Linked DNA regions of Homo sapiens. The protein of the gene in region 3 purifies or fractionates together with the protein of the main gene of each other region. This does not show direct contact. Each region holds a gene or a part of one and is shown on either strand. Other genes may lie near its edges. The genes, in order: CASC3, MOV10 and RTP3.

Region 1 (3,721 bases), on a different chromosome or scaffold from region 3:
TCAGTCCTTTCTCACATTCACTTTCTTCTCTCTCTAGACTCCATAGCTCATTCATTTCAATCACTACTAGTAACATCCCATTTCTCTTGCCACTCCCATATGCCTGGAACTGGATCAATTCAAATGTCTGCTTTCTCCAGGCCTACAACAGACTACTCCATTGCCAAAGGGGGTTACACACACACACACACACACACACACACACGCACACACTCTTACTTTTTGAAGCAGATGTCATTCTTTTGTTTTTTTCGAGAGTCTCACACTGTTACCCAGGGTGGAGTGCAGTGGTGCAATCATAGCTTGCTGTGGCCTCGACCTCCTGGGCTCAAGGGATCCTCCCACTCCAAGCTCCCAAGTAGCTGGGACATAAGCACACATCACTGCGCCAGGTTGATTTTTTGTAGAGAGAGGGTCTCACTTTGTTGCCCAGATTGGTCTCAAATTCCTGGGCTCAAGCAATCCTCCTGCCTTGGCCTCCCAAAGTGCTTGGATTACAGGTGTGAGCCACCGTGCCTGTCCTGCTCTATCCTTCTATTTCACAAAAACAAAACACAGAAAGGAACGCTAACTTCCTTTCCTTCCCACTTCTTTGTAATTACAATGGAAGATACTTCTCATCTGGTTCCTACATCTTCTCATGTACTTAGTCAAGAATACCAGTACTTAATATTATTATCTATTCCCTCTTTTTTTTCCCTTTTTTTTGAGACGGAGTCTCGCTCTGTCGCCCAGGCTCAAGTGCCCGCCACCATGCCCGGCTAATTTTTTGTATTTTTAGTAGAGACGGGGTTTCACCATGTTAGCCAGGATGGTCTCGATCTCCTGACCTCGTGATCTGCCCGCCTCGGCCTCCCAAAGTGCCGGGATTACAGGCGTGAGCCACCGCACCCAGCTTTTCCCTCCTTTCTAATCTTCCTTTGCACATACCTTTCCTTCCCACTTCTCTGTAATTACAATGGAAGATGTTAATCTTGTCTGGTTCCTACTTTTTCTCATATACTCAGTCAAAAATACCAGTACTCAATATCATTATCTATTCCCTCTCTTTTTTCCCCCTTTCTTTTCTTTTTTTCAATCTTTGACCTTATTTGATACTCTCCTAACTTTTTAAAAAACATCCAAATCACCTCTTGATCTCAAAGCTACCTCTCCAACTACCATCTCTTCAGCCTTCCCTCAGTCAAATTTCTTTAACAAGTTTTTTTGGCCAGGCACAGTGGCATGAACCTATTGTCTCAGCTATTCAAGAGGCTGATGAGGATTGTAAGTTCAAGTTCAAGCTCAGCTTGGGCAAAATAAGGAGACCCATTTGCCAAAAAAAAAAAAAAAAGAATTCTTGGAAGACTCTCAGAAAATGGCAGTGGCACAGTTTTATCTCTCTTCAAATCTCCACATGGAATGAGAGCTCTGGACAGCAAAACCGAGACCCAAACCAAAACCCTGGCCAGACACAGTGGCTCACGTCCATAATCCCAACACTTTGGGAAGCCGAGGTGGGTGGATCACCTGAGACCAGGAGTTCGAGACCAGCCTGGCCAACATGGTAAAACCGCGTCTCTACTAAAAATGCAAAAATTAGCCAGGCATGGTGGCACGCACCTGTAATCCCAGCTACGCAGGAGGCTGAGGCACAAGAATAGCTTGAATCTGGAAGGCAAAGCCACTGCACTCCAGCCTGGGCGACAGCAAGACTCTGTCTCAAAAAATAAAAAAGAAACCAAAACCTTCAGACAACACTGCAACAAAGTTAAGTTACCAGGTATCCCCCAAGACCCAAAATGTAAGTGCATAACAAAGCACCAACAGCTGTAGGACCTGTATAGTACTGGTGTCCACGCAGGAGAAAGCAGAGAGAAAGCAAATGGACCTGAGAACAGGAGAACACTGAAATAATCAACAGGCAGTCAAGGGAAAGCACAACAGTCAAAACTGAGAACAGCACTTACAACTAGCAAGGGGGCCACACACGGTGGCTCATGCCTGTAATCCCATCACTTTGGGAGGCCAAGGTGGGTGGATCATCTGAGTCAGGAGTTCGAGACCAGCCTGGAAAACATGGTGAAACCTCATCTCTACTAAAAATACAAAAATTAGCTGGGCACGGTGACACACGAGGTCCCAGCTACTCAGGAGGCTAAGGCAGGAGAATCGCTTGAACCCAGGAGACGGAGATTGCAGTTAGCTGAGATTGCGCCACTGCACTCCAGTCTGGGCGACAGAGTGAGACTCTGTCTTAAAAAAAAAAAAGGTCTGAAGGGATGAAGCTGACCTGGCTGCCAGGGCTTCCTTCTGGGGACAGGGCCCTACACTGTCCCTAGAAGGGAGTTCCTAGAAGAGAAACTGTTGAGAGCAGGACCAAATTCAGTAGGACAGGGATGGTCCAGAACAAGCTGGGAAAGGGAACAAAAGCAACAAATCTCAGAAAGCAAGCCACCATATTTCTCACCACCACAGAAAAACAACAGAAGCAGCTCTGTGAAGTTAGAAAAAGCTATTCTAAATCATGCTTCCTTCGAAAAGACCAGGAAAACTAATTTTACATAAAAATGAACAGAAAATACAGAAGTTAAATCCCATAAAGTTATAATAAGAAAAAATAATAGCATTCCTACAGACAATGAAAGCATGCCAGAAAGACATCCGCATATCATATCAAAATTGCAACTTCTATTTCAAAATAAGCTAAAAAGACATTAAGAAAATTATATAAGGCATGAAAGAACATCAATCAGAATTGGAAAAACTCAAAAATGAAATGAGAACTCAGAAAGGTATGAGCAATTAGGAATCAAAAACTATTTACCAGGTATCACCACCTAAAAGTCCCACACCTTCTCGATCTCAAAACATCCAAAACCTAACCCACAACTGTCCTTCCAGAACTCTTCTCCTGGGGTCCCTTCCTTAACAGTTAACACCATTCAACACCATTCATCAACCTGCACATTCCTTTGACTCCTTTTTCTTTTTCTGAGTCAGGGTCTCACTTTGTTGTCCAGGCTGGAGTGCTGTGGAGTGATCACAGCTCTACTGCTTTGACCTCCCTGGGCTTAGATGATCCTCCTGCCTGAACCTCCTCAGTAGCTGGGACCACAGGCCTGCGCCACCAAGACCGGATAATTTTTTTTTCTACTTTTCTTTTGTAGAGACAGGATTTTTCCATGTTGCCCAGGTGGGTCTCAGGCTCCTGGGCTCAAGCAATCCACCTGCCTCAGCCTCCCAAAATGCTGTGATTACAGGCATGAGCCAAGGTACCTGGCCTCCTTTGACTCCTTAATTTAGGTTCCACATTCAATCAATGAAGGGGTTGTTAGTACACTAGAATCTCTCTCTAATCTGTCCCACATCTTGCCATTCCAACAAGTATGAACCTTCTTTAGGGGCACCATCGTCATGCTCCTTGGACTATCCTAACAACCTCTAAACAGCTCTTCTGCCTCTAGTCTTCCTTTGTGCCTCACCCACAATTCATCCCCCACATTTAAGCCTTCAGTGGTACTTCTTTCCTAGCCATTAGGAAAACATCCAAACTCCCTTACATATAGAATGGTAAGCTGCTATAAATTCACAATCCCCAAAACTCAATGAACACTCCATATTGCCTGTCAGTTTCTCCAACGTTTCCATTCTCTAGTGACTACAGACGGTCCCTGATGTATGATGGTTCAACTTATAATTTTGACTTTATGGTGGTATGAAAGCCATAAACATTCAGTAG
Region 2 (3,500 bases), on a different chromosome or scaffold from region 3:
AGAAGAGTCAAGTATTGCCATCTTTTGGGAAAACAATCTGGCAACATCTACAAATATTTAAAATACAGGTATCCTTTAAAACCCAGGGACTGTCCGGGCACGGTGGCTCACGCCTGTAATCCCAGCACTTTGGGAGGCTGAGGCGGGCGGATCACCTGAGGTCGGGAGTTTGAGACCAGCCTGACCTGCATGGAGAAACCCATTTCTACTAAAAATAGAAAAAATTAGCTGGGCATGGTGGCAGGCACCTCTAATCCCAGCTACTCAGGAGGCTGAGGCAGGAGAATCGCTTGAACCCAGGAGGCGGAGGTTGCAGTGAGCTGAGTTCGCGCCATTGCACTCCAGCCTGGGCAACAAGAACCAAACTCTGTCACAAAAAAAAAAAAAAAAAAAAAATCCCAGGGACTGGGCATGGTGGCTCACGCCTCTAATCCTAGCACTTTGGGAGGCTGAGGTGGGAGGATCACTTGAGCCCAGGAGTTTGATATCAGCCTAAGAAACATAGCAGGTCCCTGTCTCTACAAAGAATTAAAAAAAAAAATTAGTCAGGTGTGGTGGCACACCCCTGTAGTCCCAGCTACTCAGGAGGCTGAGGTGTGAGGATTGCTTGAGCCCAGGACTTTGAGGTTACAGAGAGCTATGATTGCAGATCTGCACTCCAGTCTGGGCAACAGAGCAAGACCCTGACTCAAAAAATAAAATAAAATAAAATTTAAATTTAAAAGATAAAACAAAACCCCACAAAACCCAGTAACACTGTTCCTGGAATGTGTCCCATGGGAAGAAAAGTACCAATGTATAAAGACATATGTGCAAGGATACTTACTGCAGAGTCACTCACAGTGGTCAAGAATTGAAAATTAAACAAATGCCCATCAACAGAGTGAAAGGTGAACACATTGTAAGCACTCATACCGTGGGATATTATGCAGCCATTGAAAAGATGTACCACACCCACTCAAATGGCTAACATTTAAAAGGCTCACAATACGAAACACTGGTAAGGATACGGAACAACCAGGCCAGGCACAGCGGATCATGCCTGTAATCCTAGCACTTTGGAAGGCTGAGGTAGGAGGATCACTTCAACTGAGAAGTTCAAGACCATCCTGGGAAACATAGCAAGACCCTGTTTCTACAAAAAAATTAAGAAATTAGCTGGGCCCTTGAGGCTGCAGTCTGCCACAATTGTGCCACTGCACTCCATCCTGGGTGACAGAATGAGATTTTGTCTCAAAAAAATAAAAAATACAACAACCCAAACTCTCATGCATTGTTTGTTGGTCTGTAAAATGGTTTAAGCACTTTGGGAAAAGGTCTAATAGTTCCTTGTAAAACTAAACATATGCCTATCCTATGACTCAAAAATTCCACTCCTAGTTACATCCCAAAAGAAATTAAAATGTAAGTCCACAAAATGACTTGTATAAGATGTTCCTGGCTGGGCACGGTGGCTCACGCCTGTAATCCCAGCACTTTGGGAGGCCAAGGCGGATGGAACACTTGAGGTCAGGAGTTCGAGACCAGCGTGGCAAACACAGTGAAACCCCGTCTCTACAAAAAAAAAAAAAATTAGCCAGGCGTTGTGGCAGGCACCTGTAATCCCTGCTACTCAGGAGGCTGAGGCGGGAGAATTGCTTGAACCTGGGAGGTGCAGGTTGCAGTGAGCCAAGATCATGCCATTGCACTCTAGCCTGGGCAACAGAGCAAGACTCCGTCTCAAAAAAAAAAAAAAAAGATGTTCCTAGGAGCTTCATTCAGAAGAGCCCCAAACTAAAAACACTGTCCATAAACAGGGGAATAAATATACAAACTGTGATTTGGATTCATACAATGGAATACTACTAAGTGATAAAAAAGAAACTACTGATACATTGTGGATGAATCTCAAAAACATTACGCTAAGTGAAAGTTGCCTTACACAACAGTACATACTATATGATTCCATTAAATGAATTTCTAGAACAGGTACTGTCATGAAAAAATCAGAGCAGTGGTTGCTTCTGGGTGAGTAAGAGTGAGGACTGACTAGGAAAGGGCACGAGGGAGCTTTCTGGAGTGATGTGATGTTCTGTACCTCAACAGGCGTTTGCACACAGATATATGCATTTGTTAAACCTCACAGAACAGTACACTTACAATTTGAACATTTTGCTGTTTGCAAATTTTGCTTAAAGGCCCGGCACAGTGGTTCATACCTGTAATCCCAAAAGTTCAAGACCACCCTGCACAATATAGACAGACCCCATCTCCACAAAAAATGAAAAATTAGCTGGGCATAGTGGCACACGCCTATGGTCCCAGCTACTCAGGAGGCTGAGGTGGGAGGATAGCCTGAGTCTGGGAGGTTGAGGCTGCAGTGAGCTATGTTCATGCCACTGTACTCCAGTCTTGACAACGGAGCAAGACCTTGACTTAAAAAAACAAAAAACCAAAACCCAAACAACAACAACAAAAAACCCATGGCCGGGCGCGATGGCTCACGCCTGTAATCCCAGCACTTTGGGAGGCCAAGGCGGGTGGATCACCTGAGGTCAGGAGTTCAAGACCAGCCTGGCCAACATGGTGAAACCCCGTCTCTACTAAATACAAAAAATTAGCTGGGCATGGTGGCGCATGCCTGTAGTCCCAGCTACTTGGGAGGCTGAGGCAGGAGAATTGCTTGAATCCCAGAGGCGGAGGTTGCAGTGAGCCAAGACTGCGCCATTGCACTCCAGCCTGGGTAACAAGAGCAAAACTGTCTAAAAAAAAAAAAAAACCCATAAACAATTTTTTTTTATTTCTAGGCAAACATAACATAAATTTTGAACTCTAGCTGATAATAATCACGCTAAATAATTAATAATAATTTGTTGGAGTGAAGTGTACTGATGTCTGTAACTTATTTTGAAATGCATCAGGAAAATTAAGATGACTTGCTAAATGAATAGCGGGATGGATCTATGGGCAGATATGTGTAAAACGTTAAAAGAAATCTAGGTAAGGGTATGTGGATGTTCACTGTAGATTCATTTCAACTTTTCTTTATGTTTAAAATTTATTATAGTATGATATTGGGGAAAAAATCCCAACAATGCATTAGAGGTCTATGCCATATGCCTACGAGTGATTCCCATCACACAGTTGAGAGAGTAGGACGTGGATGATGTGAATAACATGATTCTTTTGACAGAGTCTTGGTCTGTCGCCCGGGCTGGTGTGCAATGGCGCCATCTTGGCTCACTGCAACTTCCGCCTCCCGGGTTCAAGTGATTCTCCTGCCTCAGCCTCCCGAGTAGCTGGGATTACAGGCGCCCGCCACCACGCCCAGCTAATTTTTTGTATTTTTTAGTAGAGACGGGGTTTCGCCATGTTGGCCAGACTGGTCTCAAACTCCTGACCTCAGGTGATCCACCCGCCTTGGCCTCCCAAAGTGCTGGGATTACAGGTTTGAGCCACTGAGCCCGGCCAAACATGATTCTTTTTAAATAAAACAATGACTAAAAAAACCACCCTGATTG
Region 3 (4,498 bases):
TTTTACCATGCATAGCCTTAGGTCTTGTTTATAAATTGGTTATCTGATTGCAACAAGCAGTCTATTTTGTCAGTCTTATGATCTCTGTTTTAACCTTGATGCTGGTGAGTTGTCCCTAAAGTCAAAGGGAGGGAGTATGATAAGGTGTTTCCAACCTCCCCTCCTGTCATAGCTGGGAATTTAGTTTTTCAGGTTTCTCAGGGGTCCCCTTGGCCAAAAGCTAGTCCATTCAGTTGGTTTGGGGGCTTAGGAACTTATTTTTAGTTAGCAGTTTAAAATCAATAAAGTGTAACAACTATTTACATAGCATTTACATTGTATTAGGTATTATAAGTAATCTAGAGATCAATTAAAGTATACAGAAGGATGTGCATAGATTATATGCAAATACTATGTCATTTTGTATAAGGGACCTGAGCATCTGAGGATTTTGCTATCTGCAGGGGGCGCTGGAACCAATCCACCTGGAACTGAGGGACAGCTCTAATGCTGAGAAACAAAACTGGCTTGGAAAGAGGGGAGACCCAGGACTTGAGCCTGCCGAGGAGCTAAACCCAAGGGCAAGAGCTGCAGGCAGCTGGGCTGGAGAGGAGGAAGGAGGTGGCTTTGTTTCCAACTGCCCTGGAAGACCTCCTCATCCCCCTGCATCCCCAGCCTCCTTTCCTTTTTCCTTCCTGCTCTGCTCCCTTCCTTCCTCTCCTCCTCTTGGGAGGTGGCCAGGGACATAGGTCAGTGCCTGGCCCCGAGGAAGACACATGCAGTTTGTGGACGGGTCTTGGGATGCGGACACCCAGAGTCTTGTGCACCTTCCTGGAGTGTTGCCCACTCCAGTACCCACTCCCTAATCTCCCCTCTTCCTCCTCAATCCTCTCTTGCAGGAAGCAGAGGATGGAGAACCCCCTCAGGAAGGAGGGCAGTGACTCTGGGTTTGCCTAGGGCTAATGGCCTCTCACCGACCTGTGCCCTTGTACCTGTCGCCTGGGCAAACAGTGATTGCATCAGCTTTGGTTTCTCATGGGTGGGCAGCCTTGGCTGTCTGCCGGAACGTAAAGAGCATGGAGCAAGGACATGGGAATCCGAATCCCGCTGAGGTCCCAGGACCACTTCATCCTTCTTCCCTGTGCCTCTCCTCCCCAGCATGAGCACAGCAGCCTGATGGAGAAGGATTTTCCAATGTTAGAACTGGAAAGAACACCTGTAGCCTGTCTCCACCGTTTACAGTGGTGCTGGAAGTGAAAAGATGTGTTCCAGGTCACAGGCAGGTAGACAGCGGAGCCAGACTGAAATTCACTCCTCCTGATTTGGAGTTTAGAGCTCTTCTTTGGCAACATTTTGATGAATAAAATCACAAGTTCTGTGTCTTTTGAAATTCCTTGTGGAGCCTAGTGCCATCCTCTGAACTTGGAGCCAACTGACCTTTGTCCTTGGGGCAGAGACATGGTTCATGGGCCCAATCCAGGTCCTCAAAGGGAGGGCAGGTCTGAGTCCTTGCCCTCTGAAGTCAGAAACCTCATCTCCCACTACAGACCTGCCAGGGCCCAGGAGAGCTCGACCCACCCAGGCACACCATAGCCCCAGAGATGGCTGGGGACACAGAAGTGTGGAAGCAAATGTTTCAGGAGTTAATGCGGGAGGTGAAGCCATGGCACAGGTGGACCCTGAGACCAGACAAGGGCCTTCTTCCCAACGTCCTGAAGCCAGGCTGGATGCAATACCAGCAGTGGACCTTCGCCAGGTGAGGGGGAATGTGATGGTACACGTTCCAGAAAATTCTTGCACATTTCTTACTAGGTATACCTGTTACTTTTCTTGTTCTATTCTGTGCTTTCAAATTGAAGACTATGGGTAATAAGATGCCCATCATCCAAGAAGTTGTAACTTCATTAAAGATCGTTTTTTCACTATTACAATGAACCCCAAAGCAAGAGCAGGCCTGAGCACCCTTGTGAGCTAATGCCTGGATACAGAGAAATCAGTCTGTGGGGGTGGGGAGAGGGAGCAGCCAGGAAAGGGGAGGGGAGGAAGGGCAGCTGTTGCACCCACGGGCGGTGCATGTGCCCCATGCCTAGGGAGACTGCTGGACCCACCTTGGAGCCCCTAGGAGGAGAGACTCACGGCACTGAGCAGACACCCTCGGGGGAGGCCGGAGGAGCAGGGGGCCTGGGCAACAGGCAGCAATCCTGCCCCTCTCTACTCTGAGCTGATAGAATCTTTTTAAAATAGGAGTCTTAGAAATCATCCTAAGCCTCATCCTCTCTTTCCCAGGTGGAAATGGGGAGCCCCAAGGCTTGGGGCTGATTGCCCACAGTGCACAGAGGGTGGAGGCCGGGTCCCACCCGCTGTCCCCTCCCAGGGAGAGTCTACATAGAGGGGGCAGAGCTCTCCCACTGGCCTATGGCTATCCCAGGCCAGGAGCTGCCATAGGGAGCATTGCACCAAAGTCTCAGTCCATTTATCCATGGGAAGTTTGAACTCTGAACAAGCACAGGAACAGAGCACTGAGACCCAGGGGATGGCAGTGGACTTCTGCTCAGAACAGGGCCCAGGCCCCTCTGCACTGCTGACTCTGGGTGACTCCCAGCAAGGTCCTCTCACAGTGATCACAGCTTCTTGGCCTCTCCCTCTCATTTCAACCTTGCATTCACCCTGTGGGTTGCGGCTAGAGTCAAGATACAGGAGCACACCCTGGACTAACTCCCTCTTCCCAGCCCCCTCCAATTCACCACCTGCAGCCTAATTTCTCTGTATCCAGGCATCGGGGGCTCAGCCACAGTGACAAATAAACCTGGAAATATCACTGATTTAACCTTACACGTGGCTCCCAAGGTCACCGAAGCAGAGGAGGAGAGAGCTGGAATGTCTTACCAAGGCTTCTGTGACCATATCTGGAAGGAACATATATCACTGCTGGCCTCATCTCATTGCCCAACTGGTCCCATGGCCCCAGCCTCACGGCAAAGGGGCTGGGAAGTGGGAGGGAGTGCATGGATAATTTGGTGAGCATTAAATGTCTCCGCCACAGTGCAGCTCTCTGCCTCTCCCATAATTCCTTTCCCAGGTGCAGCCATGTGCTTCCTGCCTTCTTCTCTCTCTACCTCCTGACATGTATTTGTCCAGATACCTTAGCTCAAAAACTGCCCTCCTCCCTGCTGAGACAAGGTGTATTATCTTGTATCCTGTCTGAAGCCAGTGGCATTCAGAATATGAAGTTTTCCAGGCTACCTTGAGCAAGGGAACTGGGTTGGAGGGGAAACAAATGAAGAGAGAGCTGGACACTGTGATCTCCCTGCAATACCGCAGACCAGGGACCCTCGGCAGCCAAGAGAAAGGCAAAGGCTTTCCTCTAGGAGAACCCTGGACACTTCAGGCTCCCACCGCCAACCCATGAGTCTATAACTTAATCAACACCCACCTATAGGCATTTGTGGATTTCAGGGTCCTGAACTGAACTGGCTGCTGTTGCAGTTGTGGCCTCTGACCCATTTGAATCTACATTTGAAGAAGCTTTGCTTTGGAATAGGGAGACCACAGTCCCAGTCATGCCTTTTTACACCCACTGGGTCTCTGGACATGAGGAGTTTCCAGAGTGTGCCTCATCTCTAAAATGGACGTGTTGGACTTAGAAGATGCCCAAGGTCCCTCCCAGATCTAACAGCTTGCAATTCACTGTTTTCATAGCAGACACTGTGCAGCATGCAGTGTGTCAGTGGCACAATGGAGATGGGAAAGAGGTCTTAGCAATTTCTTCCACCACTGAGCCACAGCCCCAGTCAAGTCATGTCTCTGTGCAGTCGGTAGCTCCTTTCTCTCTCTGGCAGTTCCCCGTGATTTGGTCACATGGAGCCAGGCTGAGACTCTCTTCTGTCTCCACAGGTTCCAGTGCTCCTCCTGCTCTCGTAACTGGGCCTCTGCCCAAGTTCTGGTCCTTTTCCACATGAACTGGAGTGAGGAGAAGTCCAGGGGCCAGGTGAAGATGAGGGTGTTTACCCAGAGATGTAAGAAGTGCCCCCAACCTCTGTTTGAGGACCCTGAGTTCACACAAGAGAACATCTCAAGGATCCTGAAAAACCTGGTGTTCCGAATTCTGAAGAAATGCTATAGAGGAAGATTTCAGTTGATAGAGGAGGTTCCTATGATCAAGGACATCTCTCTTGAAGGGCCACACAATAGTGACAACTGTGAGGCATGTCTGCAGGGCTTCTGTGCTGGGCCCATACAGGTTACAAGCCTCCCCCCATCTCAGACCCCAAGAGTACACTCCATTTACAAGGTGGAGGAGGTAGTTAAGCCCTGGGCCTCAGGAGAGAATGTCTATTCCTACGCATGCCAAAACCACATCTGTAGGAACTTAAGCATTTTCTGCTGTTGTGTCATTCTCATTGTTATCGTGGTGATTGTTGTAAAAACTGCTATATGAGCCTTGGAAACATGAAGCTAAGTCAGAAAAAAAATCAGATACAAAAAGTCATATGTTGTATGATTTCATTTATGTGAAAGG

The links.
Region 1: the proteins of RTP3 (region 3) and CASC3 purify together in Homo sapiens (affinity purification with mass spectrometry; one large-scale study listed by BioGRID and IntAct). This does not show direct contact.
Region 2: the proteins of RTP3 (region 3) and MOV10 purify together in Homo sapiens (affinity purification with mass spectrometry; one large-scale study listed by BioGRID and IntAct). This does not show direct contact.

The regions. Positions count from the first base shown.
Region 1 is NC_000017.11:40,146,900-40,150,620, reverse strand, and holds part of CASC3 (protein CASC3), read right to left. Parts: intron 1-3,721. UniProt on the Homo sapiens protein: Required for pre-mRNA splicing as component of the spliceosome. Core component of the splicing-dependent multiprotein exon junction complex (EJC) deposited at splice junctions on mRNAs.
Region 2 is NC_000001.11:112,681,159-112,684,658, reverse strand, and holds part of MOV10 (helicase MOV-10), read right to left. Parts: intron 1-3,500.
Region 3 is NC_000003.12:46,496,483-46,500,980, forward strand, and holds RTP3 (receptor-transporting protein 3), read left to right. Parts: upstream 1-1,493; 5' UTR 1,494-1,580; coding exon 1,581-1,735; intron 1,736-3,873; coding exon 3,874-4,417; 3' UTR 4,418-4,468; downstream 4,469-4,498.